2 separate regions of the Homo sapiens genome follow, and region 2 is linked to region 1. Evidence: fine-mapped expression QTL. Tissue or cell type: atrial appendage. Region 1 holds a variant in brackets; the other region holds the start of a gene. All regions are shown on one strand. Distances are between the middles of the regions. Region 1 has its middle 31 kb from the start of CXCL12. Region 2 holds the start of LINC02881 (long intergenic non-protein coding RNA 2881).

Evidence for each region. PIP is the estimated chance that this variant, and not a neighbour inherited with it, causes the effect. A credible set is the group of variants that fine-mapping cannot tell apart.
Region 2: LINC02881 starts here. The variant in region 1 is the best candidate, but not a certain one, in a credible set for the expression of LINC02881 in atrial appendage (GTEx, PIP 0.72).

Annotation. Positions count from the first base shown.
Region 1 is chr10:44,352,200-44,355,105 of GRCh38, reverse strand. No RefSeq gene overlaps it. Among named protein-coding and RNA genes, the nearest start is that of CXCL12, 31 kb to the left of the region's middle. The variant G/A (reference allele first, on the strand shown) is at 1,727.
Region 2 is chr10:44,291,369-44,294,274 of GRCh38, reverse strand. It overlaps LINC02881 (long intergenic non-protein coding RNA 2881), which reads right to left and starts at 1,525. Exons shown (of 3, transcript NR_164139.1): 1 at 1,342-1,525; 2 at 786-974; 3 at 1-362. LOC124902544 (a long non-coding RNA gene) reads left to right here. Exons shown (of 3, transcript XR_007062369.1): 3 at 1-361.

The DNA of each region.
Region 1 (2,906 bases):
CCTGCTTGCACCTTTGCAAGTAGTGCCTTTACTAAACTCCTCTGAAATGACCCTATTTTGAGTGTGCCATCTGTTTTCTGCTGGGACGCTGATTAACATACAGACTGTTACACTTTCAGATGATATTTTCCCATGATGTTTGCATTTCTTGAAACAAGCCTGCACTACTTTTATAGTACATGTAAACAGTAAAAATAAAACAAGAAGAGGCAGCATTCAGCACTCTGCAAGGGGAGCTGCTTCCTAACTCGGCTCACTCTGGTCCCAGGTTTCAACTCCAAAGGGGACACAAGCTGACCCAGTTCCAGCACTGTGTGTAAAAATTCCCCAAGGGGATTTTAGCTTAATGAGTTACAACAATGCCCAAAGGACTTGTTGAGAATGAATCAATTCACACTCTGGAATAGGAACTTTACAACTTTAGTCTGAATTAAGTTTAGGTGTTACAAGCCTAGTTTTTGGAGTTAGGAAGACCTGAGCTATAGTCCAGACTTAGCCTGTGTGAGTGTGACCTCAGACAAGTCACTTAATTTCTCTGAGCTCCAACCTTGTCATCTCAAAATATTTCTAAATTTAGGGGAGAACTAATTGAGAAAATATATGAAAAATGGTTAACATAATAAGCACTTAATACATACTCAAAGCGTGAAGATGATTCTCATTATCGTTATTCTAAATACTACTCCATGTGTAGAGCACAGCATGGGAGGTGAAGATACGTCAGCTTCCAGCTTCTTTCTAACAGGGCGAGCATGGCAAGAAGGTGCTCTCTTCTCAATCTGGCCTGGGCTCCTCTCATCATTTTCAGAGCCTATTCTGCCTGCCCTCTGCGATATGACCCTGAAGCCTAGGGTGGCAAAGCCTTTTATCAATGTCTTTATCACTGATGAGGGAAATCTTCAGTCTTGCCACATGCAACCCCCACAGTTCCCATATGCCCAGAGGCTGGATCACCTGATGCCAAGGAAGGACATGTCCTCTGATAAGGTCCCCAGAATGCTGACTGCCCACTGAGGTGGCTGGCTTGGGACAAGTGTCTTGCGGCAGGTCATCTGAGGGCTCCATGACTGGCTCGGTGGGGTCACAAGGCCATTTTAAACATTTGCTGTTCAGGAAGAGGCTTTTTCCAAGTGAGGATTCAAGGGGAGCCCTGCCATGGGCAGCCATGGGGACACAGGGATAATCCTCTAAGATGGCACCCCTGTCCTTGCTGCCTACCCATCTCCATCAAGCCACTCTGTGCCCACGGTGAAAGGGCCCCACTTCCCGTGTGAGTCAATACAACACATTCCACGCCAGCAATATGGAGCCATCGGGTGTGGAGGTAGAAAGGGTTGGCCTGAAGCTGTGCGTGCCCTCAACCTGCAAGGGGAAGTTGCTTTCTCCTCCAACCCAGATGGGCCTGGAGCAAACACTCACAAGAGGTTTTAGGGGTGGCACTTGAGGGACAATTGGTGTTTCATTGACTATGCCACACTCGCTGCTTTCTACCCCTAGCTGTCTCTCTCTGTTCATGGGTAGCCGTTTCCGGGAGTATTGAGGAGCTTGTGTGTGTGATATCCAGGCCCCTCAGGGCCTAGTTCATGGTCATCACTGATACAGCGACCAGACCCCTGCTGGATGGTGCAGGTCATACAACAGGGTCCTCTGTGGAGACAGACCCTCTAGCAGCTCCTGCCAGCCAGTTTGGGCTTTAAATCATAAATTTGGTGCTGCCTTTCCTCTG[G/A]AGGGAAATTTTCCAATGGCTTTTCCATGCCACTGGAATCAAATCCAGACTCTTTTCCAGGGCCTGCAGGTCCAGCGAGGTGTGCCTCTGGCTACCTTCCAGGGTTCCTCGAGCCCCTCTCCAAACTACCCAGGCTTCCGTGCCATCAAGCCTGGGCCCCCTCAGGACCTTGGCCTGGAGCGACCCCATCTGCTTATGGCTGTCTCCTCTTCACTCTTCAGGTCTCAATTCCACAAATCCCTGCTCCCCTGGTCAGGTCGGGCAGACCGCCCTCTGCACCCCAGCCCTGCCTCTGTCCCCGTTGAGCTGCCCCACAGCAGTGTCACCATTGACAGTCCCTTGTTTCCTTGCCCACTGCCTATGTCCTCTTCAGCATGTGAACTTCAGGAGAGCATAGGGCCAACGGAGATCCTTGCCTTTCTCCATCTGTGTCACCAGGGCCCTAGAAGGAGCAGGAGAACAGTTCGATATTTCACACCTGAATGGTATTTAATCAGTATGTGAGGGCTGGACAGATGCATGAATTCCCAGGTGGCTTTCCAGTTTAGAGACACGGGGCTCCTGCCTTTAAGACAGAGGGTCAGAGGCATTCCACCAACCAAGCCCCTCTGTGCACTGCAGGGGTAAGGGTGGACACACCAGCATCTTCCTCCTAAAAAGTGCGCACTCCCAGGACCCCCTGATAGAGGAAGACTGGGAGATGCAAGGGAGTGTGCAGAGGAAGCCAGCAGCAGGTGTGAGGAACCCCAGGACTTCTCAATGAGCCTGGGGCCAAGGGTAAGAGGCCGGGCCTGACACAAGTTCAGTGGGATCCTGAGCCTTGGAGCCGGCAGCTTGCCCAAGCCACAGCTGGCCAGGCTCAGCTGAGCCTCCCAGGAGGAGGAGGGCTGTATAAACAGGAAGTCTACCGCCCCGACACTGATGGGCCTTTGATAACTGCTAAACCCTCCTCAGTCTTTCTCCCAAACAGTTCCTCCCTTGGTTTGAAGTCACAGTTCTGGGGGCAGGAAAACAGATTCCACACCTTCCTGACTCAATCACCAGGCACCAGAAAGAGGGAGAGGATGGAAGCAAGAGGTGACAGAGAGAACCAGAGAGACGGATGAGGGAGGAGGGAAGGAAAAAACAGAAACACGAGGGAGACAAAGAGTGAGGAGGGGAAGAAAATAAGAAGAGAAGC
Region 2 (2,906 bases), 61 kb after region 1:
TGGCCTTCCGCCTGCCGCAAGCAACCCTCTAGAATATGGGCCTGTGCTTGGCTTTTCTACACAAACATGAGCAGCCTTCAATTACTGGGGGACATTCATTTCCTCCTTCCAACTAGAGAGCGAGGAGTGTCCCGGGGAGAGTGGGTCCTTGAGCTCCTCTGGGCCTTGCTTGGGACTTGGTCCAGGAGGTTATGGGAAGAAACTGGTTTAGAAGCTGACCTCATGGGTTCGCTATTCTTATGTAACACTTAGGAAGAGCAGAGACCCACGCGATTCAGTCCCAGAGCAATGTTGCGGTCAAGAGAACACAGTCCAGCTACCAACAGTTATTTCAAAATAATTCAAGCTCTTTGTTTATATTTCTGAAAGAAAGAAAGAAAAAAAAAGGGTGGCCCAGCTGGAAACTCGGCTTTAAGTCCCCTTTCAGGGGGCCCTCAGGTGGGCACCTGCTTGGAAACCTCTCCACCCCTCCAAACACCCTTTTCCTCTCTGAGTGTTCATTTGTTGATCCAGATTCTGAATAAATGAAGCCGTACAGAATCCACCTGGCAAAAATGGAAACTGCCTGGAGGCCAGGGCTGAGGGAAGGCCTGGAGCAGAGCCGGTGCGCGACCTCGCAGTGAGCAGGGAGGGCAGGCTGGGGACGTTCACCACCCAGAACGCCTCTGCTCCCCGCAACCCTGAGACTCCAGGCTCCCCTGTTCCTCCCTCCGGGAGACCCTGCCCGTCCTCCCCGCGGGGCTCCTTCGCAGTTCGGGGGAAGGGACGGGTTGCGTCCTCGGGACCTTTCTCTGCAGCCACAGCAGCGCATCCCAGCACCTCCTCCAGGAGCCCCGCCACCTCCTGCCACCCGGACTTTCCCCACAGCGCAGCGTCCCCTCGTCCTCTCAGGGCTGGAACAGCGGTACCCGCAGACAGTGCAAAAGGGAAGTCCCTGTTGCCTTCCCATGCAAACTGTAGGGCGCTTACAGCTGCTGGGAGAGGAAAGGAAAGAAGAAATACAGTGAGTGTGATATGGGTACAAAGAAACCAACACGGAGCTTCCGTGGGCCTAGAAAGGAGCCCCCAGGAGAAGTACACTGGGCCTGCGTCATCGCCTGCCTTCAGCGGGCTCCATCCTTCCCCAGGCCCCCCTCCCCACCCACCTCCCACCCGCGGTCCTCCCGAGGCCCCCCTCCCCGCCCCCCCTTCTCGCTTCCCCATCCCCCTCCCACCCGCGGCCCTCCCGAAGCCCCCCTCCCCACCTCCCCACCTCCATTCTTCGCCTCCCCAACCCCGCTCCGAGTCTCCCCGCCTCCCTATCCCGCCTCCCACCCGCGGCCCTCCCGACGCCCCCTTCACCTCCCCACTCCCGAGGCCCTCCTGAGGCCCCTGGGCTCCCGCTCCTCCGAGTTGCCTGCGGCCGAGTCCTGGCGCGGCCTGGGACTGCCTGTTGGGGGGAGGGGGTGGGGGGGGGTCGTTCCCAAAGAAGGGGAAGGAGGCCTTTCGTGAGCATCTGAGGAGTACATCCTCATTTTGTCTTCTCACTCTGTCCACCCAGAGCCTGTGACCCGGATCCAACCCGCGGCGCACAGACCCCGGCTCTGGGCACCCCTGGTGAGCGCCTTCTGCGCCAGAGCTCCGTACAGCACCAGCCCGCGCTCTCCCCCAGCTTCTGTTCATTTGCTGCAGTCCTGACGGGTCAGTTGCCTGAGCATCCATGCTGCCATCCATACAAACCCAGGCACGCAGAGATGTACATCCTTTACCCAGGGTGACACCATGTGGAGCTGAATCCAAGTCCGGGAGTCTGATGACCGTGTCTGGGCTCTGACCGCGCAGCCGTCTCACAGTGAAACAAATTGCGGACTGGCCTTGTCCTGAGTGGCCTTAGGAAGCTGCAGTGGCCTGCAGTCTCCTGGCCAGTCTGTAGAATTTGGCAAAGATGAGGCACCTTATAGCCTTACATGTTCTTATTTTTCTTTCCTTTTCTCTTCTTTATTTTCTTTTTTAAGGATTTGAATTAGTATATGTAAAGTGCTTAACGCAGGAGCTGGCAGAGAAAGTGGATACTCAGTAAATAACAGCAATTGTTAATTGTAAAAAGCATGCCACTTATCTGGTAAAATCCCCCATTCTAAGCACCCTGTTAAGTAGTTGGTAATTCCTCACTTGAAAGAAATTAAAAAGAATTTTTGTCAGTTTTTTAAAATATTGTTTTATTGTGATAAAATATTCATAACATAAATTTCACTCTTTTAATACTTTTTAAGTGTACAATGCAGATTAATAAGAGAAATGCATACAAATTTATTAACGTGTACACGGGAAAAATAAGGTGATTACCCAATATCCCATGAGGTCCAGATACTTATACAGCGTTTTTTCAGAGAGGAGGGTGGAAGGCGGAATGTAGGTGATTCTGTTGAGGGGCAATAAATTATTATTAAGGAGAATGAATGGGTCAAGAAACAGAGAGTTATTCGTAAATGGTTCTCTTTGAAAATTTAATAAGCTGGAGAAATGGATTATTTTTTTGAAAGCGTCTGTTCAGGTGTGGTCACGTGTTGGTTTTCTTTTCTGCAATAGATAATGAGATAAGAGGGAGGAGAAGGAAAAGTAATTGTTCTCTTTGGTGGGTCTGCAGGGTCTTCATGTAGATAAGGGAGAGGACTCTTCCAGCTTCTGTTGATCTTGAGGGACTTTAATTGAAAATACTCATACCAGGGAGCCATATTTTGGGGCCAAGTTCCCTGCGCTCCTTCAATCCTCCTGTTTGGAACTTCCCTAGAATTTCACATTATCAACAGCTGAATCAGTGATTATGGAGAGATTTGGGTTAGAGGAAAAGAAGGCAAAGAAGGGGAAAAAACAAATTGGGATAAGCAGAAAAGAAAAATAAATAAATATGTTGTCCCATATCTTCT